Regions from separate parts of the Homo sapiens genome. Here region 1 is linked to region 2. Evidence: fine-mapped expression QTL. A gene starts in region 2. The other region holds a variant in brackets. All regions are shown on one strand. Distances are between the middles of the regions.

What was found. PIP is the estimated chance that this variant, and not a neighbour inherited with it, causes the effect.
Region 1: its variant is fine-mapped to the expression of LINC00622 in neutrophils (BLUEPRINT, PIP 0.95).

What each region holds. Positions count from the first base shown.
Region 1 is chr1:119,561,581-119,578,297 of GRCh38, reverse strand. It overlaps the pseudogene HSD3BP4. Among named protein-coding and RNA genes, the nearest start is that of LINC00622, 29 kb to the left of the region's middle. The variant C/T (reference allele first, on the strand shown) is at 8,129.
Region 2 is chr1:119,589,514-119,606,230 of GRCh38, reverse strand. LINC00622 (long intergenic non-protein coding RNA 622) reads left to right here and starts at 6,940. Exons shown (of 1, transcript NR_036540.1): 1 at 6,940-8,529. It also overlaps the pseudogene GAPDHP33 and the pseudogene HSD3BP5. RefSeq lists an enhancer at 319-1,518.

The sequences.
Region 1 (16,717 bases), 28 kb after region 2:
GGAGGGCATCTTTGTCTTGTGCCAGTTTTCAAAGGGAATGCTTCCAGTTTTGGCCCATTCAGTACGATATTGGCTGCAGGTTTGTCAGAAATAGCTCTTATTATTTTGAGATATGTTCCATCAATACCTAGTTTATTGAGAGTTTTTAGCATGAAGGGCTGTTGAATTTTGTCACAGGCCTTTTCTGCATCTATTGAGATAATCATGTGGTTTTTGTTGTTGGTTCTGTTTATGTGATGGATTACGAATATTGATTTGTGTATGTTGAACCAGCCTTGCATCCCAGGGATGAAGCCTACTTGATCATGGTGGGTAAGCTTTTTAATGTGCTGCTGCATTCGGTTTGCCAGTATTTTACTGAGGATTTTCACATTGATGTTCATCAGGGATATTGGCCTAAAATTCTATTTTTTTGTTGTGTCTCTACCAGGCTTTGGTATCAGGATGATGCTAGCCTCATAAAATGAGTTAGGGAGGGTTCCCTCTTTTTCTTTTGATTGAAATAGTTTCAGAAGGAATGGTACCAGCTCCTCTGTACCTCTAGTAGAATTCGGCTGTGAATCCATCTGGTCCTGGACTTTTTTTGGTTGCTAGCCTATTAATTATTGCCTCAATTTCAGAACCTGTTATTGGTCTATTCAGAGATTCAACTTCTTCCTGGTTTAGTCTTGGGAAGATGTATGTGTCTAGGAATTTATCCATTTCTTCTAGATTTTCTAGTTTATTTGCATAGAAGTGTTTATAATATTCTCTGATGGTAGTTTGTATTTCTGTGGGATCGGTGGTGATATCCCCTTTATCATTTTTTATTGCATCTATTTGATTCTTCTCTCTTTTCTTTTTTATTAGTTTTCCTAGTAGTCTATCTTTTTTGTTGATCTTTTCAAAAAAACAGCTCTTGGATTCATTGATTTTTTTTTTTTTTTTTTTTTTTTGAGACGGAGTCTCGCTCTGTCGCCCAGGCTGGAGTGCAGTGGCGGGATCTCGGCTCACTGCAAGCTCCGCCTCCCGGGTTCACGCCATTCTCCTGCCTCAGCCTCCCAAGTAGCTGGGACTACAGGCGCCCGCCACTACGCCCGGCTAATTTTTTGTATTTTTAGTAGAGACGGGGTTTCACCGTTTTAGCCGGGATGGTCTCAATCTCCTGACCTCGTGTTCCGCCTGCCTCGGCCTCCCAAAGTGCTGGGATTACAGGCATGAGCCACCGCGCCCGGCCTTCATTGATTTTTTTGAAAGTTTTTTTGTGTCTCTATCTTCTTCAGTTCTGCTCTGATCTTAGTTATTTCTTGTCTTCTGCTAGCTTTTGAATTTGTTTGCTCTTGCTTCTCTAGTTCTTTTAATTGTGATGTTAGGGTGTCGACTTAAGATATTTCCTGCTTTCTCTTGTGGGCATTTAGTGCTATAAATTTCCCTCTACACACTGTTTTAAATGTGTCCCAGAGATTCTGGTACATTGTGTCTTTGTTTTCATTGGTTTCAAAGAAGATTTTTATTTCTGCCTTCATTTCGTTATTTACCCAGTAGTCATTCAGGAGCAGGTTGTTCAGTTTCCATGTAGTTGTGCAGTTTTGAGTGAGTTTCTTAATCCTGAGTTCTAATTTGTTTGCACTGTGGTCTGAGAGACAGTTTGTTGTGATTTCTGTTCTTTTACATTTGCTGAGGAGTGTTTTACTTCCAATTATGTGGTCAATTTTAGAATAAGTGTGATGTGGTGCTGAGAAGAATGTATATTCTGCTGATTTGGAGTGTAGAGTTCTGTAGATGTCTATTAGGTCTGCTTGGTGCAGAGCTGAGTTCAAGTCCTGGATATCCTTGTTAATCTTCTGTCTCACTGATCTGTCTAATATTGACAGTGGGGTATTAAAATGTCCCATTATTATTGTGTGGGAATCTAAGTCTGTTTTGTAGGTCTCTAAGGACTTGCTTTATGAATCTGGGTGCTCCTGTATTAGGTGCATATTTATTTAAGATAGTTAGCTCTTCTTGGCGAACTGATCCCTTACCATTATGTAGTGGCCTTCTTTGTCTTTTTTGATTTTTGTTGGTTTAAAGTCTGTTTTATCAGAGACTAGGAGATTGCATTCCCTGCTTTTTTTTTGCTTACTATTTGCTTGGTAGATCTTCCTCCATCCCTTTATTTTGAGCCTGTGTGTGTCTTTGCACGTGAGATGGGTATCCTGAATACAGCACACTGATGGGTCTTGATTCTTTATCCAATTTGCCAGTCTGTGTCTTTTAATTGGGGCATTTAGGCCATTTACATTTAAGGTTATTATTATGTTTGAATTTGATCCTGTCATTATGATGTTAGCTGATTATTTTGCCCATTAATTGATGCAGTTTCTTCATAGCGTCGATGGTCTTTACCATTTGGCATGTTTTTGCCGTGGCTGGTTTTGCAGTGGTTGTTCCTTTCCATGTTTAGTGCTTCCTTCAGGAGCCTTGTAAGGCAGGCCTGGTGGTGACAAAATCTCTCAGCATTTGTTTGTCTCTAAAGGATTTTATTTCTCCTTCACTTATGAAGCTTAGTTTGGCTGAATATGAGTTTCTGGGTTGAAAATTCTTTTCTTTAAGAATGTCGAATATTGGCCCCCACTCTCTTCTGGCCTGCAGGTTTTCTGCCGAGAGATCCGCTGTTAGTCTGATGGTCTTCCCTTTGTGGGTAACTGAACCTTTCTCTCTGGCTGCCCTTAACATTTTTTCCTTCATTTCAACCTTGGTGAATCTGGCAATTATGTGTCTTGGGGTTGCCCTTCTCGAGGAGTATCTTTGTGGTGTTCTCTGTATTTCCTGAATTTGAATGTTTTCCCGCCTTGCTAGGTTGGGGAAGTTCTCCTGAATAATATCCTCAAGAGTGTTTTCTAACTTGGTTCCATTCTCCCTGTCACTTTCAGGTGCACCAAACAAATGTAGATTTGGTCTTTGCATATAGTGCCATATTTCTTGGAGGCTTCGTTCATTTCTTTTCACTCTTTTTTCTCTAATCTTGTCTTCTCACTTTATTTCATTAGTTTGATCTTCAATCACTGATACCCTTTCTTCCACTTGATTGAATCAGCTGTTGAATCTTATGCATGTGTCACAAAGTTCTCGTGCTGTGGTTTTGAGCTCCATCAGGTCATTTAATGTCTTCTCTACACTGTTTATTCTAGTTAGCAATTCGTCTAACCTTTTTTCAAGGCTTTTAGCTTCCTTGCAATGGGTTAGAACATGCTCCTTTAGCGCGGAGAAGTTTGTTATTACCGAAGGTCTGACGCCTGCTTCTGTCAACTCCTCAAAGTCATTCTCCGTCCAGTTTTGTTCCCTTGCTGGTGAGGAGCTGCGATCCTTTGGAGGAGAAGAGGCACTCTTTTTTGGAATTTTCAGCTTTTCTGCTCTGGTTTCTCCCCATCTTTGTGATTTTATCTACCTTTGGTCTTTGATGTTGATGACTGTGACCTATGGATGGGGTTTTGGTGTGGACGTCCTTTTTTTTGATGTTGATGCTCTTCCTTTCTGTTTGTTAGTTTTCCTTCTAACAGTCAGACCCCTCAGCTGCAGGTCTGTTGGAGTTTGCTGGATATCCACTCCAGACCCTGTTTGGCTGGGTATCAATAGTGGAGGCTGCAGAGCAGCAAGTATTGCCACCTGATCCTTCTTCTGGAAGCTTTGTCCCAGAGGGGCACCCACCTGTTTAAGGTGTCTGTCAGCCCCTACTGGGAGGTGTTTTCCAGTCAGGCTACATGGGGGTCATGGACCTGCTAGAAGAGGCAGTCTGTCTGTTCTCGGATCTGGAATGCCGTGCTGAGAGAACCACTGCTCTCTTCAGAGCTGTCAGACAGGGACATTTAAGTCTGCAGAAGCTGTCTGCTGCCTTTTGTTCTACTGTGTCCTTCCCTCAGAGGTGGAAGCTATAGAGGCAGTAGGCCTTGCTAAGCTGCAGTGGGTTCCACCTAGTTCATGCTTCCCAGCCTCTTTCTTTACACTGTGAGCTACTCAAGCCTCAGCAATGGCAGACGCCCCTCCCCCCCATCAAGCTACAGCATTGCCAGTCTATCTCAGACTGCTGCAGTAGCAGTGAGCAAGGCTCCCTGGGCGTGGGACCCACTGAGCCAGGCAAAGGAGGTTATCTCCTGGTCTGCTGGTTGCTAAGACTGTGGAAAAAGCACAGTATTTGGTCAGGAGTGTACCTTTTCTCCAGGCAAGCCTGTCACAGCTTCCCTTGGCAGGAAAGGGAAATCCCCCAACCCCTTGTGCTTCCTGGATGAGGCAATGCCCCACTCTGCTTCAGCTCGCCCTCTGTGGGCTGCACCCACAGTCCAACCAGTCCCAATGAGATGAACCAGGTACCTCAGTTGGAAATGCAGAAATCACCCATCTTCGGCATCAATCTCTCTGAGAGCTGCAGATCGGAGCTGTTCCTATTCGGCCATCTTGGAAGTGACCACTGGGTGTTGCATTTTTCACCTTACCCCACTGCCTGGGGCCACTCCCCCCTGACGCTGGTGATGATCATCTGTTCCTTGGGCTTTTGAAGATGGTGGTAACCTGTTCATCTGGGCCAGAATGTGGTTCCCTTTTCTCTTCAGAATGAACACTGAAACTAACTCCATTGTGGTAATCAAATTCAACTGAGTAATGATCTGTTAATTTCCTGTGTAAGAAAAAAGCCATCTTGATGTTGGGTGTGACTCTCATCATGGCTGTGATACACAAAGGTCCAGAGGGAGACAGCTTCCACCCCACACTCTGGACCCATAGCAACCTCCTCACCTGCTTCAGTTCAACTCTGTCCCTGATGCCCCTGACAGTGTTTCTTTTGAGTGTGTTTTCATTGATTGGTTAATGACTATGTCATCACTGAAGTCCCCAAACTTGTCTTGATTGGCCTCCTCTCTTCAGGGAAATTGAGAAGAATGAGAGAACCAGTGATTAAAGAGGAGATGGAGAGAAGAAAGAGGCTAAGGATATGGAAGAATAAAGGAAGAAAGGATATGATTTAGAGAAGAGAAGGAGAAAGAAGAGAGAGACAGTTAAATCTGGGGATGTGGGATAGTAGACTTCTAATTTTGGGCTGAGTAGAAGGTATATTTTGGAGGAAGTTCACACTTGTTTTTTGTACTTGTCCAGGAACCCATGGTGTGGCTCATTGTGTGATTTGAAAGGGTGAAATGCAGGGTTATGTATGATCAGAATGGCCAACACACATATAGCCAGGAGTGTTCTAGAGACCTTCAAATAAATTGACACTGAAGCGGGTGGAGGCCTGATGCATTTTTGTTTCTCTCTGCCCTGCTCAGGCCCATTAGGAAAGGCATGCAAACCCTTTCAGATGCCCCTCAGGGATTATCCTTGGTTCTAGAGATTCCCCTGTACCAGATTGGGCAAGAAAGAGGTAACCCCAAAAAGCTGGGGCTCTCCCAAGTATCAGCATCCCATGCTCCAGTGCTCTGCTGTACCACTGATAAGACCAGTTCAGGCTGCATGATTCTAGGGAAAGATAAAGTCTTTCAAGACCAACTTCCTGGTAGCAGGCCTAGCCACTAATCATTAGTGTGATGGTGAACAAGTTTCCTTAAGGGTAAAATGGGAATAGTCACCCCCACGTGATAGGTTTCTGATAAGTATTGAGTGAGGGAATATATGTCACATGTAGGTCATGTTGTAGATGCCTGAAACATAGTAGAGCTTATTCAGTCTTCATCGCCCTTCCAGATCCTCCCACTACTCTGCCAACCCCCCTTCCCCAGCTCCATGCTACTCTCCTAGGTAAAAGATGGTGATACCTGGAAATGAAAAGAAAAGGAGGGAACTAGGTATTAACAGAAACTACACCTCCCTCCAGGTTAAGGATTAAAACATTTATTGCTCTTTACATTGGACTGCGTGAAGAAATAGGAGATTTAAAAGAAAAGAAATCCTTTCTCATTTAAGAGTAGAAATGGAGCTCTAGTAGTTAAAAATGACCTCAAGTTAGAAGAGACTACAATTGTTCGGAATCAGCCACTGAGATATGGAAAAAGCAAATCACATTGTCTTTCCTCTGGTATATGATTAGGACAAAAAGCTTCTGGTTGGGCCAGGGACTGGGCAGGTTTTGATGACATGAGGAAGACAATAAGTTGGCTATTATGTGAAAGGGAGGCAGCAGGACCTGGACTTTTGCCCTTGTCACCTGTATGAAGCCAGGAGGATGGAGCTTGACGACATCTCCTAACAATACCCACATGCACATCTCTGTCATCCTTCGATCACTGAGTCTTGGACTTCAGGGTCTCCTTGTGCCAGTCCACAAGGGAACCAACCCACTCCATGGTTTTCTGCTTGGCTTCCTCCCAGCTGTAAAGTGACTTATATGCCAGATCTTGCTGAGCCTTCTTGTAAGAGAAGGTGAACACGCTATTTGACAATGTCACTCTGTGGTGGTTGAAGGGCGGTCGACAGGTGTAAACTGGCCTCGGCAGGAAGCTCACTATTTCCAGCAGGAAGCCAATCCAGTACGTCAGGGATAAAGGCAGGCTCCAACTGGAATCAAGGCAGAGGCCGAACTCTTTGCTCAAGGTGTAACTAAGGTTATCATAGCTTTGGTGAGGCGTGTCATCTGAGATATAGTAGAACTGTCCTCGGACACTTGGGGCCTTCTTGGGCTCCCGCAGGGCCCTCAAGGCCAGAATGTGGGCCCAGGCTATGTTGCCAACATAGACTGGGTTGACTCTGGAGAACTTGCTGAAACTTGACAGGATTCCATGGTTGTTTAGGGCCTCATTTATACCGGCAGAAAGGATTGGGCTTCCTTCCCCATAGATAAACATTGGTCTTACGGCACAAGTGTACAAGGTGCCACCGTTTTTCAGAGTCAGCCCATTAGCCGCCAGCACAGCCTTCTCAGCAAGCTTTTTGCTGTGTGGGTATGGAGCGTACCATGTGTTTTCCAGAGGCTCTTCTTCATGACCGTTCTGAATGATTTCCTTGTAGGAATTGGGCCTGGCTACCTCTAGGGTACTGGTGTAGATGAAGATTGGCACTGTAGCTTGGACACAGGCCTCCAACAGAAGCTGGGTACCTACCTACGAAAAGCATTCTGTCAGTGTCAGGAAATATAACTAAGGGGCCCCAACAACGTGCATAGATATTTATTCCCAAGTGCAGTGGTTATAACAGACTCGGGGTATATTCTTATGTGACTCTGACTGAGACTGGGCCATGCTACAGCCATAGGAAAAACACCAAAATGAAAAGAAACTGACATGTGGGTTCTGGGGAGCAAGAATTTCTAGACTTTTGGGTATATGGATGTGTGTGTCTGTGTGTGTGTGTGTATATACTGTAATTTTGGCAAAGGACCTAGAATTATCACTTTATATTCTGTCAAGTAATGATGTTGAAAAATTACAATGTGACATCAATACCATTAATGGCAGATTATTGAAAAACTAACAAATCAGGAAGATATACTCTGAGAATATGGACAGTCCCAGTCCTTAGGCAGAAAAGGGCACTGGAAGAATTTATGTCACACACACACCCATACACAATTGTATATAAGCAATATACACTCTGAAATGTACTCTTAAATATACATATAATTGCTGGTATTTTTCTCATTTTGAGTGGACTGGTAAAACTTTGTCACCAGGACCATTCCTGGAGTCATTGAGCGAACAGTGGCTTGTGGGGAGATGCTGGAAACCCACACTCTTTTCCTGATTGTGCATTCCCTGGGAAAGCTGCTTCCAATTCTGGCTGTGACTCTGTTTACCTGGTTATGTAAAGTCGGGGTGATAAACCTTCCTTTAAACCCTGCCCTGGCGTTTCCTGTGGAGCCTGGTGGAGGACTGGGGAGAGGAGTGTGCCCTCTGCTGGTAACACCTGTACTGGGAGGACCTTGCCGCCTCCCCTGAGCTGTGTGGAAGCGAAGCTCATGGAGGTGTTCGGAGTGCCTTCCCTTGAAGAAGGAAGGAATTTCCTAGGCAAAGGATTATTATTTTTTCTTATTTTTTTATTCTTGGCCCTGTTTAAAGTCTCTGTGGAATTTGAGTTTCTGGAGAGACAGCCTCATGTTTTCAACAATTAATCTGGTGGCAGAGAAAATGCGGAAGTAGTTTACCTTCAAGGGGGAAATGACCAACATTGTGAAATATTTTCTAAG[C/T]CTTGGAGTGATAATGGTTAGGAAACAGATGCCTCTAACACTTCCCCTGTCATTTCACATTTCTTGTTGTTGGGAGCTGCGGAGAGTTAACAATTCAAATGAAAAACTGGTTACTCTTAACACCCTCCTTGCACTGTAGGGGTACTGAAAGAAATGAGCGAGTAGAAACTGGAAAGGTTTTTTTCTTTCTGTTTCCTTCCTTCCTCTCTTTCTTTCTTTCTTTCTTCCTTCCTTCCTTCCTTCTTTCCTTCCTTCCTTCTTTCCTTTCTTTCTCTTTCTTCTTTCTTTCTTTCTTTCTTTCTTTCTTTCTTTCTTTCTTTCTTTCTTTCTTTCTTCTCTTTTTTTTTTGGTACTGGAGACTCAAAAGCAATTAGTTGCATGAGAAAAGGCATCAGAGTAGACTGAATGTGGAGGGCCAGGCCTGTGGTTGGGTGCTATGGTGCTGAAGAGACTGGACTCTGGGAATCAGAGGGTGAGACTGCATGACGAGATTCCTTAAGGGAATGTGTCTGAATTTAAAGTAGTTTGGGAAGCTGCAATTCGGAAAGACCACCAAGCTTTTAAGGGACGAGGATTGAATGAAGGTGCACTTTGGGCACCTAGTTTGAAATGGTTCTGTAATAGCAGGCCCTTTGGTGAGCTGAAGAGATCATATTCTGCATACTGGGAAACTCTTTTTGTTAAGAAAATATTGTGAGAAAGCATGTGCTGGATAATTCTGTCCTGACAGACCTCTGAGAACCAGCTTTGCTAGTTCTCTCAAGAGAACTTCTTTGAGGTGGGCAGGAGGGCTTTGAATGTTCTTGATATGGGAGTGCTGGGAAGGGAAGAGTGTGGTCCCTTTAAATGATATGAGAGCGGGGAAGGGAAGTGCTGGGTGAAGGAGGGTGTGGTTTCTGGCTAGGGCTGCACCCTCAGGGACCTAGATGAGGACAAGCATTTTCTGCCCAAATGTTGCATTTCCCAAGACCACCCTGGCCTGCCATGCTCCCATTCTCTGCCTATAAAACCCCCCAATACCCTAGCAGGCACATGCACAAGCTGCTGGACATTGAGAGGAGCAGATTGGCAGAAGAAGACAGAAGGGGCTGGATGTCAGGAAGGGCACATCAGTGGAGGCACACATCAGCAGAGGAACACATCAGCAAAGGAATACACGGGCAGCTGGACTTTGGGAGGAACATACCCATGGGCAAAATGATGTGGAGTTTGTCTGGGGTGGTTGGAGAAGAGTTGGGTCATTGAGCAACCGACTCCAGGGGAAAACCCTCCCCTTCTGGCATCCCCCAGCTGCTGAGAGCTACCTCCACTCAAAATAACCTTGTACTCATTCTCCAAGCCCAGGTGTGATCCAATTCTTCCGGTAACCAAAGCAAGAACCCAGGATACAGAAAGCCCTCTGACCTTCCAACAAGGTAGAGGGTCTAATTTAGCTGGTTAAAACAAGCCGCCTATAGATGTCAAAACTAAAAGAGCAAGACTAAAAGAGCACCATGTAACACACACCCACTGGGGCTTCAGGAGCTGTACAATTCACCCCAGACACTGCCATGGTGTCGGAGTCCCACAGCCTGCCTGCCTGTATGCTCCCATAGAGGTTTCAGCAGTGAGGCACTGAAGAAGCAAGCCACACCCCCATTGCATGCTTGGTGAGGGGGGTGAGGGAATTTTTCCCATTTCATTATTATAAGCCTACACACAAGGTTTAAAATGATGACTATGGTGGCACCTGGAAGGTTTGATTCTGTCCCATAGAGGCAAAGAGTGGCTGAATATCAAGAGTCTGAAGTTGGAGTTTAGTTGACTTTTGACTGGAGCCACAATAGAGTGTCCACAGCCTTTGGAGTCACACAGGGGTGAGTTTAAAGTCTAATTCTCCTACTTACTTACTTACCTGGGGGGCCTTGGACAAGTTACTTGCCATCTGTAGCACTGGTTTCCTCATGTAAAAAACTGAAGATAGCAGCTTTGAACTCCCCCAGTTGGTAGTGATCAGCAAAGACACTTGGTCCAGAGCATAGCAGGTGTTCAGTGGAGAGACTTCTTTTCCCTTCCTGTCCTTCTTTGTGATCCTTAATTCCCCACCTTGCTTCATCTCCTCCCCAGGCTACTGTACCTTTCACATTGACATTCATGATGGACTCTGTGAGTGACACCGATGACATATATGATAGAGGCAGTGTGGATGATGACCGACATGTCCTGGCAGGCTCTCTTCAGGAATGGCTCATCCAGAATGTCTCCTTCCAGCACTGTCAGCTTGGTCTTGTTCTGGAGCTCTGTGTGAACACGGGACAGGTTATCGGAATGGTTTCTGAAACTGGCTTGGAAGTTTCCTGATAAAGATGTTGTTGCATAGGTGTTTGAGGATGGCTAGAGTCAGGGTGTTGGAGTGGAGGGTGTACATTCCATGGAAGGAACAAATAAACAGAGACACAGAAGTCAGAATGTGTAGCAATTTATTGGGAAAGAGCAAACATCTGTTTCTACCCCATCTCATTTCAGAAATGTAATCTGAGCAATGAGCTGTCAGGTGTGCTTGGAATATAAGCACTGCTAGGGTCATGGAAAGCCCATCAAAATTTTTAAAAGGAGTAGAGTGATTGTGGAGAGTTGGGTATAAGAGGGAAAATTTGAATTTAATTCTGCTGGTGATGCGGGATCATGATTTTGGGTCTCCAGCACCATATCAGAGAAACCCCTTATTTATATTTGGAATAAGTAGAGAAACAGGCAGAGCATGGTGGCTCACACCTGTAATTCCATCATTTTGGGAGGCTGAGGTGGGCAGATTGCTTGCACCCAGGAGGTCAAGATCAGCCTGGACAACCTCATGAAACCCCATCTCTACTAAAAATACAAAAATTAGCCAGGCGTATTGGTGCATGCCCATAGTCCTGGCTGCTTGGAAGGCTGAAGCAGGAGGATGAATGGGGCCCAGGAGGTGAAGGTGGCAGTGAGCAGAGATCATGCCTTTGCATGCCAGCCTTGGTGGCATAGCCAAACCTTGTTTCAAAAAAAAAAAAAAAAAAAAGAGAGAGAGAAACAGAAGCAGAATTGTGAAGTAGGAAGTCAACATTGGCTTGAGGATATAAAATGGACTGGTATAGGGGATATGAGAAAGTAAGGTAATTAAGATATTAATCAGAGTATCTGTGCCAAAGTTTCGATGAGGACTGGAAGCAGGGTCCAGCAGTGGAAGCAGAGCAGGGGAGAGATAAAACAGGTTTGAATTTCAGACCTTACCTTGAAGGTCCTGGTACCTATTGGATCTGGGCTGAGAGAAAAAGAAGACAAAATCACCCCTATGGTTTCCTGCTTGGGAAATTGGGAGGAGAGTGGAGCCATTACTAGGGAACTGTGGATGGGCATAAATGAGGAATGTCCATGAAAAACTCTTATCAGATATCAAAAGCAGATAGCAATGCTGAAAGTTAGTGACCAATGAACTGATATTCCAGCTGTCTAGCCAAGGGCAGTGGTTACAACTTTAATGTCTTCACGCTCCTCTGAAATCCACAAGACATTACGCGGACAGTAAAGTTGTCACCTGGAATTAGCCCACGCAATGAAAACCGTGGTACCTGGAGCTTGGATAAATACTCTACACTTGTTTGTGCTTTATAATCTGCATATGACTCACAGCTTGCTTATTTCATTTTACAACAATCTCATGAGACAGGTTTTCTGAGTCCCACTTTATTGTGAGGAAACTGAGGATCAGAGAGGTTAAGGGACAGATCTAAGGTCACGTTTCTAGTGGAGACTCAAACTTGCCCACCCCACCTCTAAGTGTTGTACTCTGTACACCGGGTACAGGCCTAGCTGTTTAGAATAAACTTTTCTGAGAAAGAGTAAGAATAAACCAGGTCAACTGAAATTGGCAACAAAGGCCAAAGAACAGTGAGAGTAAAATTCAGAGCGAAAAATTCAAGACCGGAGCAATTCCTTCCAGGGGTTCAGACAGGACCATTTACTCTCCTAATGCCTTTGCCATGTTTTGTCTACTCCCAGCCCCTTCCTATTGCCAGGCACCTCCAAGGAGGCCCTGCAGTTTGGGGAGGCAGGGAAGAGGCTGCTGGGGAGGATGCGGGTAACAGCCTGAGAGTGGAATTTTCTCTGGTTGTATTTCCACCTCTGCACTTCCTGCTCCCTTCCTCTGCTTCCCCTTTGCTGCCAACTTCAGACAGGCTGGCAGAAAGGAATTGCCATTTCAAAGCAGAAGAAGTCTAAAGCCAAGAGAAAAGGCTTTTCCTCAATGAGTTCACAGGGATCTAGAGAGACCAGGAAAAGGGACTTTGTGGTGGAGCCATAGTTCCCTCCTTCCTCAAGCTGCTAGACTAACTACTGCTTAAGAGCACAGATGCTGCACTAGACTGTCTGGGTTCAAATCCAGCTTTGCAATATTCTAACTCTGGGACCTTCGGTGAGTTAATTAACCTCTCTGTGTCTGTCTCCTGATCTGTAAGAAAGGAGGATAATAATATTAACAATCTCATAGGGTTGCTATGAGTAACAAATGAGTCAGCACATGCAAAACATGTAGCACAGTGCCTGGCACAGAAAGAACACTGAAAGGATTCTTTGTTTTTATCTTCATACAGGCCACTGCCTATCCATTATATTCCCTGCCTTTTCACCATAAGGAACAATTCCTCTAGGCTGAGAATTGCTTTTTTCTGGTATTACGTGTTAGATTGTAAATACTGGTGACACATAAGGATTACAAACATTTAATCTTGTTTTGTGTTAATATTTGTTTATGAAAGACACCATTAAAACAGAGGGTGGAGGAAATCGGAAGAGGTCAGAGAAGAGCAAAAGAGGAACAGTGTGTTGGGTGTGGTCCCTGAGTGCTATCAAGTAGAGGCTTCTCTGAGGGCAGGTCATGACTCTCTACACAGCCAGAGCCCACATGTAGACACACAGTACCCTGGGTTGGGGAGGAGGACAGGGAATTGGGCACCCAGGGAGGCAAAGGGAGAGACTGAAGACCCACTTTGCCAAGCATCAGCTCCAGAGTCAAGTGAGGAAGCCTCTGGAGGAAGCTCTGGTCTGAGCTGTGCTACACATTAATTAGATGGTCTCGGCAAGTTGCTTTATGTTTCTGGACTTTGATGGTTCATTGTTCAGTTGGATGCAACCCCTTTTCTACCTTCCTCATGGGGTTATTTGCACAAGGATCTGCTACACCGAATTCTGCAATTTCTTGGCTATTGAGCAACAGAGACAAATGGTTAAAAAATAAAGCCATATATGAAAAATCGAAATGAGGCATATCTGGCCTCATACTGCCTCTTGCCATCTCTGTTCTGTGCTGTGTGCCTGTGCACGGGCTCTCTCTATCACTGATGCTCTCTTTCTCTCTCACTCTTTCTCATGCATTCTCTGTCTTTCTCATTCTCTCTGATTTTCTCTCCCCCCTCATTTTCTCTCTCTGTTTCGCTTTCTGGCACACACACACACTTACACACTCTCCTATACATTCACTTCCTTTTATTTTGCCTTCACTAAAGATGCCAAGGTTGCTACAAAACAAAAAGCTCAGGGCAGTCTAGAAAGGCAGGGACCCACTGGTGAGGTCTCCAGGTAAATGGTGTCCTTTATAAATGTTGCAAAGCAATTGCCAAGACAAAAAGCTTCAGAACATAAAAACGTTGTAGACAAGAAAAATAACTGATGTGGGATTTTCTAGATGAGAAGTAAAGGGGTCTGGTGTCCAAAGTGGCTGCCTCTCAAGTTCTGGGTCAGGGCCAGAATCCAGTCTCTGGACACCCCGTCCAGTGTCTTTCACATGATGCCATTTATACTATTTAATATTCTTTTTATGATGATTGTGAATGTGGGATTGGCTTAGATTTGACTACAACTTTCTGTAACTTGCTAGAAAAGGTTCACCTTCCTGCACCCATGCAGGGTTTAAAATGGAGCCACACATCCATGAATCAAGTTTACTTACCAGAAAATTCCTCCCTCAGCTTTGGTCTGAAGGCCTTGTCCAAGGCCCTGATCTCCTTCAGCTCCTTCTCCTCCACCAAGAGGCGGATGATCCTCTAACCCAGAAACCCTCCTGCTCCTGTCACAAGGCAGCTCCAGCCTGTCATTGCCAATCCAATATTGCAGGAAACACTCGCCAGGAAACAGAAGATGCTGGGGAGCAGATCTGATTCTAGATTGACCCTGGAGAGGGCTGAAAACGAGATCAAATGGTTATATACTCACACAAATGCTTTATTTTCCTCCACCCCATTTTTTTTGGCAAAAATTCCATGTCTTCACCATTGCCAGAAGTAGCTAAAAGAAAATAAAGAAACTCCAACTGTTAGATTATTAAAAAGCTGGATAGAAGAGTCAGAGTGCTGGTCACTTCATCCCCTAAGGTAGCCCTGGAGTTCTATGTTCTGTGGCTCCTGGCTTTCCCCTTATCACTTTGAACTCCTGCCACATACTCATTGCTCCTGTCTCTTCCAGTATGCCTTTTCTCAGAAGAAAAGTGACCTTTAATGTATATCTCTAATTCTTCCCAGGAACAGGAAGAGAAGTCCAATTGTAAGGCTGTAGTGTGGTAAAGGGTCTTAGGTTTAGCCTTAACAGGACACTAGTTGGTTGATTCCAGTTGTCTGGGATCTGCAATCTGTGATCTTAAACTAGACTGAGAGAAATCTCCAAGTGTAATGTGAACTTTGCCTTTGTGCAGTAAATATGTTTGGAGGGAAATCCACATGAGCCCATTCTCTCCTCTCTCAGAGTGTCATTTGAAATGCTGCTGCAGTCTTGCAAAGTTTAGAAATTTGTAATGGTGACAGCTCCAATTACTGTTTTATGGAGTTGACTTTCTTTCCCACTCAATATATCCAAAACCTCAGTTGCCATTTTACCCTGGAGAGCTCTGGGTTCCTAGATGAAGAACATCATTGAAGGAAGGCTGTCTAGTGATAGCCACTTAATTATATGGCCTGTACTGTTGCTGTCAGTTACTACGGCATGAACGAAGGGGGTCAAATGTAGAAAGGAAGACAAAGACAAAAGGATATGTTTTAAAACAAGAGGTCAGGGGGCTCCTTGCTTCTAGTGAGCAAAGGCAGCTCTGAGCTTCTAAAGCCCTTTGTATTTATGAGGTAGAAAGAGCAGGTAGGGAGAGATAATGGTTGGTCAGCTGCTTGATTTATCACAGGTACACATAATTGCTTTCTTTATACAACAGCTTCAGAGGTTCCTATAGATAATCACAAGGAACACTGCACTGGGGGTGTGACGGCCTTCAGCACCCCTTCTGGCAGCAGACATAGTTTGTCAGTTTTAAAACGTCCTGCTTTCATGAGAACAGTTTTCTGTTTGCTCAAATAGCCTCCAGTGGTATACTGAGTTGGTCACGACCCTCATTCTTTTTGGCCTGTAACACTGTACCACAAGAGTGGGGATTTGTGGTTGTATGCCCCAATGACTCTTATCATAGATGTTTGAACTTTTCCCATATTTTTGGGTACAAAACCATTCTCAGCAAATTTCTGAACTGAAGATGTTGTGAATGCTCCTTGAGCCTATGCCAGAGAACTGCCCAAATTTCACCACCATAAGCTCTCCAAGACACTTTCCTCTATCTAAAAAAAGAGGTGTAATTTATATTCATTAACATGCCCAGATCTCAAGTGTTCAGTTCAATGAACATTGACAGTTATATATGTCCATGTAAGTAGCAACCCAAAAATGTATAGGTCATTTTCGTCACTGCAGACAGTTCTTTTCTGCCTGTTATTGGCTAATTCCCTGCCCTACTCCCAATCTACCTGGTAGGCAACTACTTTCTGATTTTTATTCCCACAGAATTCTTATTTTATCCCTATATTTTCTTATTTATTCTTCTAAGATCTCTGTGGTTCTGGATATATATTTAAATATAAAATCATTCTGAAATGAATTTTTGTGCATGGAGTACAGAAGGATTGACCATTGATTGTCTCTATTGTTTGTTCATTTTTCTATTTCATGATTTTCTTTGTTTTTATTATCAGCTTATGTTTATTAACTTGGGGGTTGTTTTACTCCTTTTTTTCAGGGTTCTTATTATAAAAGCATATATAATTGACTTTAGTCCTTTGCTCATTTCCACTACAGGCATTTAAAGTTGTAAGTTTCTCTCTAAGCACTGTGTCAGCTGCAGCCAACATTTTGATGCATCGGGTTATCATCACTCAGTTAATGATGTTTTGAATTTTTTCTTGTGAGTTCGTCTTTGACCCAAGTGACCGATACCAACAGAGTATGTAGCTTGTTTTCTGAAATTGGGAATCTTCTAGATATCTTATTGTTTTGAATTTCTAATTAAATACTACTGTGGCCATAGCATATACTCTGTATGATTTTGATCCTTGTGTATATATTGAGACTTGTTTTATGGTGCAGCATATGGTCTGTGTTGGTGAACATCCCATAAACACTTGAAACGAATGCTTTCTGCAGTTGTTGGAAGTAATATTCTACAAATGATTTGCTTTGAAACCCCACTCTAGGTCTTGCCCTCCTCCCATGTTGAAAACATTCAACTGCTACTTGGGACCTGACTACCAATGCTTCAAACCCACTTGCCTA
Region 2 (16,717 bases):
TCCCCTTCTGGCATCCCCCAGCTGCTGAGAGCTACCTTCACTCAACAAAACCTGGCACTCATTCTCCAAGCCCAGGTGTGATCTAATTTCTCTGGTAACCAAAACAAGAACCCAGGATACAGAAAGCCCTCTGACCTTCCGACAAGGTAGAGGGTCTAATTTAGCTGGTTAAAACAAGCCGCCTGTAGATGTCAAAACTAAAAGAGCAAGACTAAAAGAGCACCATGTAACACACACCCACTGAGGCTTCAGGAGCTGTAAACATTCACCCCAGACACTGCTATGGTGTCGGAGTCCCACAGCCTGCCTGTCTCTATGCTCCCACAGAGGTTTGAGCAGTGAGGCATTGAAGAAGCAAGCCACACCCTCATTGCATGCCTGGTGAGGGGGATGAGGGAATTTTTCCCATTTCATTATCATAAGCCTACGCACAAGGTGACTTGTGTGTAGCACAATGATGACTATGGTGGCACCTGGAAGGTTTGATTCTGTCCCATAGAGGGATATCAAGAGTCTGAAGTTGGAATTTAGTTGACTTTTGATTGAAGCCACTATAGAAAGAGTGTCCACAGCCTTTGGAGTCACACAGGGGTGAGTTTAAAGTCTAACTCTCCTATTTACTTACTTACCTGGGGGGGCCTTGGACAAGTTACTTGCCATCTGTAGCACTGGTTTCCTCATGTAAAAAACTGAAGATAGCAGCTTTGAACTCCCCCAGTTGGTAGTGATCAGCAAAGACACTTGGTCCAGAGCATAGCAGGTGTTCAGTGGAGAGACTTCTTTTCCCTTCCTGTCCTTCTTTGTGATCCTTAATTCCCCACCTTGCTTCATCTCCTCCCCAGGCTACTGTACGTTTCACATTGATGTTCATGATGGACTCTCTGTGAGTGACACCGATGATGTCTATGATGGAGGTGGTGTGGATGATGACCGACATGTCCTGGCAGGCTCTCTTCAGGCATGACTCATCCAGAATGTCTCCTTCCAGCACCGTCAGCTTGGTCTTGTTCTGGAGCTCTGTGTGAACACCGGTCAGGTTATCAGAACGATTTCTGAAACGATTTCTGAAACTGATAAAGATGTTGTTACATAGATGTTCGAGGATGGCTAGAGTCAGGGTGTTGGAGTGGAGGGTGTACATTCCATGGAAGGAACAAGTAAACAGGGACACAGAAGTCAGAATATGTAGCAATTTATTGGGAAAGAGCAAACATCTGTTTCTACCCCATCTCATTTAAGAAAAGTAATCTGAGCAATGAGCTGTCAGGTGTGCTTGGAATATAAGCATTTCTAGAGTCATGGGAGACTCACTAAAATATTTAAAGAGAGTAAGGTGACTGTGGAGAGTTGGGTATAAGAGGGAAAATTTGAATTTAATTCTGCTGGTGATGCGGGATCATGATTTTGGGTCTCCAGCACCATGTCAAAGAAAATCCCTTATTTATATTTGGAATAAGTAGAGAAACAGGCAGAGCATGGTGGCTGACACCTGTAATTCCAGCACTTTGGGAGGCTGAGGTGGGCAGATTGCTTGCACCCAGGAGGTCAAGACCAGCCTGGACAGCCTCGTGAAACCCCGTCTCTACTAAAAACACAAAAATTAGCCAGGCGTAGTGGTGCTTGCCCATAGTCCCAGCTGTTCGGGAGGCTGAAGCAGGAGGATGAATGGGGCCCAGGAGGTGAAGGTGGCAGTGAGCAGAGATCATACCTCTGCACTCCAGCCTTGGTGGCACAGCCAAACCCTGTTAATAAAAAAAGAGAGACAGAGAAACAGAAGCAGAATTGTAATGTAGGAAGTCAACATTGGCTTGAGGATATAAAATGGACTGGTATAGGGGATATGAGAAAGTAAGGTAATTAAGATATTAATCAGAGTATCTGTGCCAAAGTTTCGATGAGGACTGGAAGCAGGGTCCAGCAGTGGAAGCAGAGCAGGGGAGAGATAAAACAGGTTTGAATTTCAGACCTTACCTTGAAGGTCCTGATACCTACTGGATCTGGGCTGAGAGAAAAAGAAGACAAAATCACCCCTATGGTTTCCTCCTTGGGCAATTGGGAGGAGAGTGGAGCCATTACTAGGGAATTGCTGATGGGCTTAAATGAGGAATTTCCATGAAAAACTCATCAGATTTGAAAAGCAGATAGCAATGCTGAAAGTTAGCGACCAATGAACTGATATTCCAGCTGTCTAGCTGAGGGCAGTGGTTAAAACTTTAATGTCTTCACGCTCCTCTGAAATCCACAAGAAGTGATGCTGCCAGTAAAGTTGTCACCTGGAATTAGCCCACGCAATGAACACTGTGGTACATGAAGCTTGGATAAATACACTACACTTGTTTGTGCTTTATAATCTGCATATGACTCACAGCTTGCTTATTTCCTTTTACAGCAATCTCATGAGATAGGTTTTCTGAGTCCCACTTTACTGGTGAGGAAACTGAGGTTCAGAGAGGTTAAGGGACAGATCAAAGGTCGCGTTTCTAGTAGAGGCTCAAACTTGCCCACTCCACCTCCAAGCCTCGTACCCTGCACACCAGGTACAGGACTGGCTGTTTAGAATAAACTTTTCTGAGAAAGAGTAAGAATAAGCCAGTTCAACTGAAATTGGCAACAAAGGCCAAAGAACAGTGAGAGTAAAATTCAGAGCGAAAAATTCAAGACCGGAGCAATTCCTTCCTGGGATACAGGCGGGACCACTTCCTCTCCTAATGCCTCTGCCATGTTTTGTCTACTCCCAGCCCCTTCCTATTGCCAGGCAACTCCAAGAAGGCCATGCTATGGGGGAGGCAGGGAAGAGGCTGCTGGGGAGGACATGGGTGACAGCCTGAGAGTGGAATTTTCTCTGGTTGTATTTCCACCTCTGCACTTCCTGCTCCCTTCCTCTGCTTCCCCTTTGCTGCCAACTTCAGACAGACTGGCTCAAAGGAATTGCCATTTCAAAGCTGAAGAAGTCTAAAGCCAAGAGAAAAGGCTTTTCCTTAATGAGTTCACAGGGATCTAGAGACCAGGAAAGGGGACTTTGTGGATGGAGCCATAGCTCCCTCATTCCCCAAGCTGCTAGGTGAACTACTGCTTAAGAGCACAGATGCCGCACTAGACTGTCTGGGTTCAAATCCAGCTTTGCCATATTCTAACTCTGAGACTTTCAACGAGTTAATTAACCTCTCTATGTCTGTCTCCTAATCTGTGAGAAAGGAGGATAATAATATTAACAATCTCATAGGGTTGCTATGAGTAACAAATGAGTCAGCACATGCAAAACATGTAGCACAGTGCCTGGCACAGAAAGAACACTGAAAGGATTCTCTGTTTTTATCTTTATACAGGCTACTGCCCATCCATTATATCCCCTACCTTTTCACCATAGGAGAACTATTCCTCTAGGCTGAGCGTTGCTTTTTTTCTGGTATTAGGTGTTAGATTGCAAATATTGGTGACACATAAGGATTACAAACATTTCATCTTGGTCTTGTGTTAGTATTTGTTTATGAAAGACACCATTAAAACAGAGGGTGGAGGAAATTGGAAGAGGTCAGAAAAGAGCAAAAGAAGAGCAGAATTTTGGGTGTGGTGGTCCCTGAGTGCTGTCAAGTAGGGGCTTCTCTGAGGGCAGGGCATGACTCTTTGCACAGCCAGAGCCCAGGTGTAGACACACAGTTCACCCACCCCCTGGGTTGGGGAGGAGGACAGGGAATTGGGCACCCAGAGAGGCAAAGGGAGAGACTGAAGACCCACTTTGCCAAGGATCAGCTCCAGAGTAAAGTGATGATGCTTCTGGATGAAGCTCTGGTCTGAGGTCTGCTACACATTAACCAGATGGTCTTAGCAAGTTGTTTTATGTTTCTGGATCTTGATAGTTCATTGTCCAGTTGGATATGACTCCTTTTCTACTTTCCTCATGGAGTTATTTGCACAAGAAGTTGCTACAGCAAATTCTGCAATTTCTTGGGGGTATTGAGCAACAGAAGCAAATGGTTAAAAAATAAAGCCATAAATGAAAAATCGAAAAGAGGGATATCCGGCCTTATACTGCCTCTTACTCTGTCTCTGCTCTGTGCTGTGCACTTGTGCATGCTCTCTCTCTCTCACTGATGCTGTCTCTTTCTCCTATCCTCTCCCTCTCTCTCTCACTCTTTCTCATGCATTCTTTCTCTTTCTCATTCTCTCTCTCTGATTTTCTCTCCCCCTCATTTTCTCTCTCTTTTGCTCTCTCTCTCTCACACACACAAACACACACACTTACACACTCATCTATAACTTCACTTCCTTTTATTTTGCCTTCACCAAAGGTGCCAAGGTTGCTACAAAACAAAACAAAGCTCAGGGAAGTCTAGAGAGGCAGGGACCCACTGGTGAGGTCTTCAGGTAAATGGTGTCCTTTGTGAATGTTGCAAAGCAATTGCCGAGACAAAAAGCTTCAGAACTTAAAATAGTTGCAGACAAGAAAAATAACTGATGTGGGATTTTCTAGATGAGAAGAAAAGGGGGCTGGTGTCCAAAGTGGTTGCCTCTCAAGTTCTGGGTCAGGGACAGAATCCAGTCTCTGGATAGCCCATCCAGAATCTTTCACACTATGCCATTTTATACTATTTAATTTTCTTTTCTTTCTTTTTTTTTAAGACTATCGATGTGAGATTGGCTTAGATTTGACTACTGTTCTCTGTAACTTGCTAGAAAAGGTCCACCTTCCTGCACCCATGCAGTGTCTAAAATGGAACCACACACCCATGAATCAAGTTTACTTACCAGAAAATTCCTTCCTCAATTCCGGTCTGAAGGCCTTGTCCAAGGCCCTGATCTCCTTCAGCTCCTTCTCCTCCACCAAGAGGCGGATGATACTCTAACCCAGAAACCCTCCTGCTCCTGTCACAAGGCAGCTCCAGCCTGTCATGGCCAATCCAAAGTAGCAGACAACACACTCCAGGAAACAGAAGATGCTGGGGAGCAGATCTGATTCTAGGGTGACCCTGGAGAGGGCTAAAAAAAGAGATCAAATGGTTATATACTCACACAGATGTCTTATTTTCCTCTACCCCATTTTTTTTGCAAAAATTCCATGTCTCCACCATTGCCAGGAGTAGCTGAAAGAAAATGAAGAAGCTCTTACTGTTAGATTGTTAAAGCTGGACAAAAGAGTCAGGGTGCTTGTCACTTCATCCCCTAAGGGAGCCCTGGGCCTTTATGCTCCGTGGCTTCTGACTTGCCCCTTATCCCCTTGAACTCCTGCCACATACTCATTTCTCCTGCCTCCTCCAGCATCCCTTTTCTCAGAAGAATAGTGACCTTTAGTCTATATCTCTAATTCTTCCCAGGAACAGGAAGAGAAGTCCAATTCTAAGGCAGCAATGCAGTAAAGAGTCTTAGGTTTAGCCTTAACAGGACACTGGTCAGTTGATACCAGATATCGGGGATCCGCAATCTGTGATCTTAAACTAGGCTGAGAGAAATCTCCAAGTGTAATGTGAACTTTGCTTTTGTGCAGTAAATATGTTTGGAAGGAAATCCACATTAGCTCGTTATCTCCTCTCTCTGAGTGTCATTTGAAATGTTGCTGCTGTCTTGCAAAGTTTAGAAATTTGCAATGGTGACAGCTCCAATCACTAAGTTTTACGGAGGTGACTTACTTACCTATTCAATATATCCAAAACCTCAATTGCAATTTTCCCCCAGAGAGCTCTGGGTTCCTAGATGAAGAACACCATTGAAGGAAAGCTATCTAGTGTTAACCATTTAATGATATGGCCTGTACCACAGGAGTGGGGATTTGTGGTTGTATGCTCCAATGACTCTTATCATAGATGTTTGAACTTTTCCCATATTTTTGGGTACAAAACCATTCTCAGCAAATTTCTGAAGATGCTGTGAATGCTCCTTGAGCGTATACCTGAGAACTGCCCAAATTTCACCACCATAAGCTCTCCAAGATACTTTCCTCTACTTAAAAAAATCGAGGCCAGGCGCAGTGGCTCATGCCTGTAATCCCAGCACTTTGGGAGGCCGAGGCAGGCAGATCATGAATTCAGGAGATCAACACCACCCTGGCTAACACGGTGAAACCCCATCTCTACTAAAAATACAAAAACTTAGCTGGGCCTGGTGGTGGGCGCCTGTAGTCCCAGCTACTCAGGAGGCTGAGGCAGGAGAATGGCGTGAACCCTGGAGGCGGAGCTTGCAGTGAGCTGAGATTGCGCCACTGCACTCCAGCCTGGGCGACACAGTGAGACTCCGTCTCAAAAAAGAAAAAAAAAAAAAATCCAGGTGTAATCAGGTGTAATTTATATTCACTAAAATGCCCAGAGCTCGTGTTTAGTTTGATGAACCTTGACAGTTATGTATGCCCATGTAAGTAGCACCCAAAAAATGTATTGGTCATTTCCTTCACTGCAGAAAGTTCTTTTCTGCCTGTTCTTAGTTAATTCCCTCCCCTGCCCCCAATTTACCCTGGTAGGCAGCTACTTTCTGATTTTTATTCCCACAGAATTTTCATTTTATTCCTATATTTTCTTAATTTATTCTTCTAAGATCTCTGTGGTTCTGGATATATATTTAAATATAAAATCATTCTGAACTGAAGTTTTGTTCATGGAGTACAGAAGGATTGACCATTGATTGTCTCTATTGTTTGTTCATTTTTCTATTTCATGATTTTCTTTGTTTTTATTATCAGCTTATGTTTATTAACTTGGGGGTTGTTTTACTCCTTTTTTTCAGGGTTCTTATTATAAAAGCATATATAATTGACTTTAGTCCTTTGCTCATTTCCACTACAGGCATTTAAAGTTGTAAGTTTCTCTCTAAGCACTGTGTCAGCTGCAGCCAACATTTTGATGCATCGGGTTATCATCACTCAGTTAATGATGTTTTGAATTTTTTCTTGTGAGTTCGTCTTTGACCCAAGTGACCGATACCAACAGAGTATGTAGCTTGTTTTCTGAAATTGGGAATCTTCTAGATATCTTATTGTTTTGAATTTCTAATTAAATACTACTGTGGCCATAGCATATACTCTGTATGATTTTGATCCTTGTGTATATATTGAGACTTGTTTTATGGTGCAGCAAAAGGTCTGTGTTGGTGAACATCCCATAAACACTTGAAACGAATGCTTTCTGCAGTTGTTGGAAGTAATATTCTACAAATGATTTGCTTTGAAACCCCACTCTAGGTCTTGCCCTCCTCCCATGTTGAAAACATTCAACTGCTACTTGGGACCTGACTACCAATGCTTCAAACCCACTTGCCTAGAAAAGGTTGGCCCTGTGCTGCAAGATGTAGCAGCTTGTTCTCCGATAGCTACAGGCCCTGGGTCTTGCTGAGACATGTGGAGCACTATCTGAACCACCCAGGTGCATCACACACCTTTGCCTGCTATAGCACATGCTAGAGTGCACCTTACAGATCCCATCACCTTTCGGATGGGGCCAGACATTCCCTATGCTGTTGAGAGTTCTGGAGGCTGATAGATTTCAGCCAGTGTCTCTTGGAGTCTCTGAGTGGAACCGATAAATAAAAGCCCTAAAGAAAGTGAGAAATTAAACAAAGGGCAAGACTGATGGGGGCCACACTACTAAATTTCTTTTGTTTTTAAACAGCTTTACTGAGGTATAATTGACATAACATTCGCTTGTTTTAAGTGTGCAGTTAAATTATTTTCAGTAAAATTTTAGACTTGTGTGACCATCACCATGATCCTGTTTTGCAACATTTCTATCATTCCTAAGAAATCCCCTATGTTCATCAGTCACCACCACTTTTTCCCAGTCCCCAGCTCCAGGCAACCTCTAATTGACTTTCTGACTCTACAGATTTGCCTTTTCTGGAGACCATATAAATGAAATCATGCAATATGTGGTCTTTTGTATCTGTCTTCTTTCATTTACTTTAATATACTTTTATGGTTCATGTATGTGGCAGCACATATCAATATTTTAATCCTGTTAGGGGACAAATCCTATTAAATTGTATGGATAGCTCCCATTAGTTTATTCATTTATCAGTTGATACATATTTGAGTGTTTCTACTTTATGGACAATTATGGATAAAGTTGCTATGAATATTCACATTCATGTGTTGTGTGGACATAGGTTTTTTTCTTCTGGGTAGATAGCTAGAAGTGATAGTGCTAGGTCATATGGTAAATATATCTTCAACATTTTAAGATACTGCCAAACTGGTTTCCAACGTGACTGCATGTCCCATCAACAATGCGTGAGTGTTTTAGTTTTTCCACGTCATTATTTCACTTCCCCCAGGTGTTACTGTCCTTTTTTATTATAGCATTCTAGTGGGTAAGAAGTGGTGTCTCACTGTAGTTTTGATTTGCATGTCCCTGCTGACTGATGATGCTGACCATCTTTTCATGTATTTTATTGTCTATTCCTACACCTTTTTGATGAAATGGTTATTCAAATATTTTGCCTATTTTAAAATTGGGTTATTTATCTTTTTGTTGCGTAGTTGTAAGTGTATTTCATATTCTGGATATGAGTCCTGTATTAAATATATGATTTGAATTTTTTTTCTCAGTCTCTGGTTTATCTCTTCATTTTCTTATTGGTGGCTTTTAAATGCCAACATTTTTAGTTTTGATCCTGTTTCATTTTTCAACTATTTTTTAACCAGGAAAAGTTGGGTTTTTGCCTAATTCAAGATCATGAATATAATAATCTATGTTTTCTTCTAAGAGGTGTATAGTTTAGCCCTTAAATTTAGGCCTTTATTTTATTTTGAGGGAAGTTTTGCCTATGTGTGGGTTAATGGCCTAAATTCATATGGCCAATTGATTTTGACAATAGCAAATTCAATAGGGAAAAAGATTGTCTTTTAAACAAGTGACACTGAGACAACTGAATTGTCCACATGCTCAGGGAATGTCAGCCTGCTATGTCAAGTGGTGCCCACCCGAGTCACCACCTATTGACATCAGAGTGTGTGAAGAATTTCTCAATATGATAACTATGGGTTAAATAATATGCTGTAGCTTTCTGCTCCTCCCATTCGACAGATAGCCGCATCTTCTTGTGCAGCGCCAGCCGCATCCCTGAGACACCATGGTAAGGGTGAAGGCCAGAGTCAATGGATTTGGCCCCATTGGTTGCCTGGTTACCAAGGCTACTTATAACTGGTAAAGTGGATATTGTCACCATCAATGACCCCTTCATAGTCTACAAATTCCATACTACATGGTCTATGTATTCCAGTATGATTCCACCCGTGGTGAATTCCATGGCACCGTAAAGGCTGAGAACAGGAAGCTTGTCATCAATGGAAATCCCACCACGATCTTCCAAAAGCTAAATCCCACCAAAATCAAATAGGACAATGCTGGCACCAAGTACATCATAGACTCCAGTGTCGTCTTCACTACCATGGAGAAGTGTGTGGCTCATTTGTAGGGGCCAGTTAAATGGATCATCATCTCTAACCCCTCTGCTGACAGCCCCATGTTTGTGATGGGTATGAACCATGAGAAATATAACAACAGCCTCAAGATCATCAACAGTGTTTCTTGTACCACCAACTGCTTAGCATCTCTGGCCAAGATCATCCATGACAACTCCGATTTAGTGGAAGGACTCATGACCACAGTAAATGCTATGATTGCCACCCAGAAGACTGTGGACGGCCCCTCTGTGAAACTGTGGCATGACAGCTGCAGGGCTCAAAGGAACATCATCCTTGCATCTACTGGCACTCTCAAGGCTGTGGGCAAGTATATCAATGAGCTGCATGGGAAGATCACTAGCATGGCATTCCAGGTCCCCACCACGAACATGTTGGTCATGAACCTGACCTGCCCTCAGGAAAAGCATGCCAAATATGATAACATCAAGCAGGTGGTGAAGCAGCATCAGAAGGCCCCCATAAGGGCATCCTGTGCAACACTGAGAACCAGGTTGCCTCCTCCAGCTTAACCATTGACACCCACTCTTCCACCTTCAATCCTGGGACTGGCATTGCCCTCAGTGACCACTTTGTTAAGCTCATTTTCTCATATGATAATGAATTTGGGTACAGCAACAGGATGGTGAACCTCATGGCTCACATAGCCTCCAAGGAGTAAGACCTCTGGGCCACCAGCCCCGCGAGAGCATGAGAGGAAAAGAGAGGCCCTCAGCTGCTGGGGAGTCCCTGCCACACTCAGTCCCCCACCACACTGAGATTCTCCCCTCCATGCAGTTTCCATGCAGACCCCCTGAAGAGGGAGGGGCCTAGGGAACCCCACCTTGTCGTGTACCACCAATAAAGTCCCCTGTCTATGCTCAGAAAAAAAAAAGCGGTATTAGGAAAGCTCACAAAGATTACTGATCAGCAAAAAAATAGACAGCATGATTTCTCCATCCTCCTATTTAATACTGATGCATAAATGGTCAGGAAATGCTGGGCTCACAATGGGAGTCTGCATTCCAGTGTAGGAACAATAGTCTCCCTTGTTATAATTTTTTATCATGTGAGCACAAGGATACAGCTTTATCAGTGGAGGAACACACAGGCTGTTGGTGTGAAACAGTCTAGATTTAGGTTCCAGATGTTCACAAGATTGTCTGGAAAAATCACCTGCCTAGCATCTAGAGTCCTTGGGGCTCATGCAAAGGGTTTCCCTTTTTTTAGGGGAGAAAGCCACCCATTTTGCAGGGAGCTGTACTAGGCACAGTCTCTCATGCTGGGAAAAGGAAAATCCCTCTTCTTGGCCAGCTTACTAAACTCCTGGCTTATTTTAGGATAATTACACCCCTTGTGCTTGAGTCCTAGAGAGGTCATGAGTAGCATAGAATAAGTTTTAAAGGCACATGACTAGACGAAATAAGTTATAAGAATATTCATGGATAATAGGGAAAGTTTCCGGACTGAATCCTGGAATACACATATCAATATTTACAAGTTGAACAGAGAAGGAGGGGCCAGCTAAATATGCTGAGTAGGAGTTGGTGGCAGGAGGGAGAAAAATTACAAGGAGATGGCCTTGTAAAAGTCAAGTTGAAGAAAGTGTTTCAAGAAGAGTTTGGTTCACTATGTTGGATGCTGCTGATCAAATGCAATAGGAAAATAATTGATTATTGATTTTGGCAACATTGTAAGTAATTTGGTAAGAGCAATTTCCACAAATAGTTGGGTTGAAAGTTCAACTGGAAAGTCCAACACACAATTCATTTGTGTGTTGAGGAATAGAAGAAAAATGTGAAGAGAGCGACTCTTAAAAACAACACCTGTTCAAGAAGTTGTGCCATGAAGATCTCAGTAAAAAGGTGTTACAGCCAGTGGAGTGAAGAGTTTGTTTTTGTTGTGTTGTCTTAAACTGGACTACTCCTTTATTGATCCTTAGCACCTTGTACAGAGCAAATGTTCAAACATTGTTGAGTGTTTGACTAAATAAAGTGTTTATGTCTCATACATCGTTTTATTACCATAAGAATTTGCACAACATCTGACACATCATAGGAACTTAATACATGCTTATTGAATAAAGAAATGGAAGGATGAGTGAACAATCAAGACTCTAGAATGTCTTAGTGCTTCTGAAAGTTAGTGCTTATAGACTAATACAAAGAAGGAAATAGAAGAGAACAGTGACCACAAAAATGAAAATACTAGAAAGTTTCCCATAGTAATGAGAGGCTGGAATCATTGCCCAGGCCAAAGCTGTTTGCCAAGGAGAAGCAATTTTCTTCTCATCTATAGCACGGATATGAGTAGGATCCTAGGTATTTGAAGTGTACTTGAAGAGCCAGTTTTCAGAAGTAAAGAACAATGGGCCATCCCCTCCACCATACAGGGAGAACTAGGGCCAGAGCTTTTGGGTTATATGAGCTCAACTTGGCTGTCTTTCCAGGCAAGACCTTCAAAGTGAGAAAGGAGGAGGCTTTAGCAAAATGTCTTTTTTATTTCTTACTGAATTCTGTTTGTCAGTTATTTTTGGGGGAGATCACATAGATGTCACTCAACCATTTCCTCTGGAGTCTGACAATGATGGTATGGTAGCCAGCCTCTAAGTTGAATCCAGTGATCTCTGCTTCCTGGTATTCATTCCCTTGTGTGTGTGCTGAACCTAGTAACTTGCTTTTAATCAGTATAATTGGACCAAAATGATGGAATATTACTTCCATGATTAGGTTAGAAAAGATTGTGACTTCCATCTTGTTTTACACTTCCTCTTTCTCATTGGGCTGGATGAAGCAACCTGCCATGCTGGACAGGACAATATAGTAATGAACTGAGGGCAGCCAACAGTCAAAGGGGAACTGAGGTTCCCAGTCCAATATGCTTCGAGGAAGTGAATTTTCCAACAACTATGAAAGTGAGCTTGAAAGTAGATATTTCCCCAGTTGAGTCCTCAGATGAAACTGGAACTTTGTGCCAGTCAAGTCAAGAGCTCTTGGAACTCCAATGTTTAAGAAGAAAATAGGTAGACTGACATATTTTTAACAAGCTGCTTTCTTTTCTTGGGGATTTCTCTTGCATTACAAAGAACATTAGCCCTTCATTAAACTCAGTTTGAAAACCACAAGTGGTTTAGCAAATATTAGATTCACTGAAGTTACTAAGTGTTGGTGAAGATGTGGGGAGACAGGTGTGTTATCCGTGGAAGTGTAAGTTTATGCAAATTTCTGGTGAGTATCTGACAAAATATTTTAAATTTTCACACACTTGACCCATCCATACGAGTCCACTCCAGATATTTATTTTAAGGAATAATCAGTTGAAATCAGACCAAGATGTCATATGGCACATCTCCTTGCACAAAGAAAGCTCTGCATATGAGCTCTAATATATTAATTGAGCCCTTTACTATGTATCAGGTGCTTTACGTATGTTATCTCATTTAGTTTTTAAAATGGACTTTATTTTCTATGATAGTTTTAGCTTCACAACAAAGTTGAGGGCAAGTGCAGACAGTTCTCATATACTCCCACTCCCACACATACACAGACTCCCCATCTATCACCATTCTGCACCACATGGTACATTTATTACAATCATTGATCTGCATTGACACATCTTTATCACTCAAAGTTCACAGTTTACTCTTGGTCTTGCACATTCTTAGTTTTGACCAATGTATTCTGATATATAACCACCATTTTAGTGTCATCTGCCCTAAAAATCTGCTTCTGTCTGTCAATCCCTCTGTGCACCCTGACTCTGACAGGGTCAGATAGTTGGAATCACACTGTATGTAGCCTGTTCATGTCGACTTCTTGCATTTAGTAATATACATTTAAGCTTCCTCCATGTCTTTTCATGGCTTGATAGCACTTTTTTTTCTTTTAGCACTGAATAATATTTCATTATCCATTGAACTATTGAAGGACAAATTGGCTGCTTCCAGGTTTTGATAATCATGAATAAAACTGCTATAAAGATCTAACCTAGAAGTAGGTTTTTGTGTGGATGTAAGTTTCCAATTTATTTGTGTAAATACAGTGAAGCATAATTGCTGGATTATATGGTAAGAATATGTTTAGTTTTATAAGAAACTGTCAAACTGCCTTACAAGTGTCGGTACCATTTTGCATCCCCACCAGCAATGGATGAGCATTCCTGATGCTCCACATTCTTGCTAGCATTAGTTGTCAGTGTTAAGGATTTTCACCATTCTAATGGGTGTGCAGTGGTATCTCATTTTTGTGTTAGGTTGCAATTCTCTAATGACATATGATGTTGAGTATCTTTTCATACGCTTTCTTATAATTTATATATCTTATTTGGTGGGTGTCTGTTCATGTCTGTTGCCTATATTTGTATCAGATTGCATTCCACGTGTAAGACATTTTTAGGAGTTAAGAGATTCCTTCTGAGATTTCGTATGCATCTCTTCAGTTTACTGTGGACATTCCTTTTCCCATATTTCTAAGCAATGGAGAACAGCCTTTTGGTAGTATCTTGATAAGATTCTTGCTCATTTCCCTTGGAATTTTTGATGTAGCCCCTGAGCCAGATGCAACTTAAAAAATTACACACATTTGTGTCCAGGAGCACAGTTATCACCAGGTAGATGCATACAAAGAGAGCTTCTACTACCTTTTCTTGTAAAGTAAGCTAATGTCGTTGTCTGTATACCAAATTGCTTTAATACCATATGCTCATGTGATTTGTTTTACTCTTACCCCAAACCAATCTCTATTGACTCCCACAAGTCTTCAGCTGGTGATTTCAGGGTCGAAGAGATGACCTTAAGCTGGCCACTACGCTTGCATTGAAGTGCCTGTGATAAAGGCAACTTTGGGAAATTTTGCAACTTGATCACTAACCAGCATAAAAGCATGAAAAAAAATTGATTTACAAGACCGTGATTGGGTGTTTGGATCTTATGTTTTCTCTGATTTCAAGTCTTACCTTCAAGGATTTATTTATTTATTTACTTATCCACAAGGAACAATTTAGCACTAAAATGTTCTTATCTTTTTCTGATGTGAGGAGAATCATGAGACTACAATTATAAACTTAACACAAATAGAAGGGGGCTGAGAAAGGTGGTATCTACAGAACAGTTCTACGATCTGGAAGTGAAATTCCAGAGAGTACACTTCAAGAAAGCATACCAAGTCCCACTGTCCATGAGGCTGACTCTTGATGGATGACAAGGCTATTAGGGTTGGGGAACAGGCCAGAGGAGAGCAAAGTCTGCCTAGATTTGGTCATTTGCTGTGGGATGTGCCTGGTGGGACAGCTGTCTCATGAGTCTGCCCACTGTCTGAGGCCGTGTTCTTGAAGACCCCTGAGTAAGAGACAATTTCTTAGACATTAATCACTGTCATTCATTTAGCTCTGTAGTACTTTATTGAGAAAGTCTCCAAGTATCTACTAAAACTATCCAATATGACCAAAATAAAGATATCTCCTTTCTCATTTCCTGGTGAAGAACTGGGCTAGTTAATATTAACTTGTTTCCAGGGTCCCTGAAACTCTTATCTGAAAACTCTCTTTCTGCTACTTTTCTTGGAGGTCAGTGAATTGCACAGAATAGACATCAGTCCGTGTGCCACAAAATCCTGTAACATCCTAGGTCATGACAATGAATATTTTAGGCTTTCCTTTGCTCCTCTGTTCTTTCTTGTCTCTGGTTTTTGCCCTCTGACTCAAAGTAAAAAATATTCCCAAAGTCCCTTGCAGCAGTGCATGAGTTAGGCTATACCAAATTCACCTTTGTCCTGTATTCCTTCTTGATCTTGTGAAATTGTATGGTCTGAATGTGTTCCTTCCAAATTCATATGTTGAAACTTAATTGCCAATGTGATAGTGTTCAGAATTGGGGCCTTTAGGAAGTGATTGGTATATGAGGACAGGGCCCTTGTGAATGGGATTAGTGACCTCATAAAAGGGCTTGAGGAAACTAGCTGACCCTTTCCATTCTTCTGCCACATGAGGACACAGGCAATGCAGCAACAAGATGCTGTCTTGGAAGGAGACACTGAGCTCCCACCAGACATGGAACCTGCAGACACATTGATCATGCACTTCCTGGCATCTGGAACATGAGAAATAAGTTTCTGTTGTTTGTACATTTTCTAATCTGATATATTTTGTTGTACTAGCACAAATAGACTAAATCATGACACTTCCATTTTTTACAAGTCACTCAAATCAGGGTGTTGAAAGTAATCTTCAAGGCCTGTGGTCATCTAGGCATCCTGTTCCACAATGCAACTGTGACTGCTGTGTCAGCCAGACAGTCACCCCTAGACATGTGCTTTCTTAGTATTTCCCTAAACTTTCAGCACAAGCACTCCATCCTTGCTGCTGGATTAAAGGCCCCTCCTTGGCCTCAAATTATCAGCCCACCAGTGCAGCAGCCAATTTGACACCTAAATAAAAAGTTAAGGCCTCACTCTGGGAGCATGGTCAATTTCCCTTTTCTTTTTACCAACCCAATAAAATTTCATCCGATTTAACCTTCTGTGCTTCTCTTCAATGACCACAATTCTCCAAAGTATCCACTACTCTTCCAAGTATTCTAATGACACGTGGTTTTTTTCCTTTCAACTGATTTAACTTTGCTGCACTGTTTCATAGATAGAGAGTATGATTTCTGTTGGGAAATTTTTATAGGTATAGCTCTTCTGTCCAGAGTGCAAAGTTCCATAGTTTTGGACAGTATGTGCAAAAAATTATAAGCTACTGGCTGTTTCAGTCGTTACTGATCTGCCCTATTAAGATCTTTTGTTCTGAGAAGAATCAATGGGAATTCTTTGAGTCATACAATTAACGAACTATTTTTATTTTATTTTATTTTATTATTATTATTTTTTTGAGACTGAGTCTCACTCTGTCACCTGGGCTGGAGTGCAGTGGCGCAATCTCAGCTCACTGCAAGCTCCTCCTCCTGGGTTCATGCCATTCTCCCACCTCAGTCTCCTGAGTGGCTGGGACTACAGGCACCCGCCACCATGCCTGGCTAATTTTTTGTATTTTTAGTAGAGACAGGTTTTCACCATTCACAGGATGGTCTCGATCTCCTGACCTTGTGATCTGCCCGCCTCGGTCTCCCAAAGTGCTGGGATTACAGGTATGAGCCACTGTGCCCGGCCCGAACTATTTTATTTAAAGGGACTGCTGTTTTGAAAGGTTGGGTGTTCACTTCTTTTTAATTTTGGGATCTGAATTGCAGTTATAGGCAAGCAGAGCTATATGACGATACTTCATTTTCCCTTTCTAAATATTTGGGTGGTGAAGGCACTATATGTATATTTTGGTTAAGCAAATAGGTCTGAAAAGTTA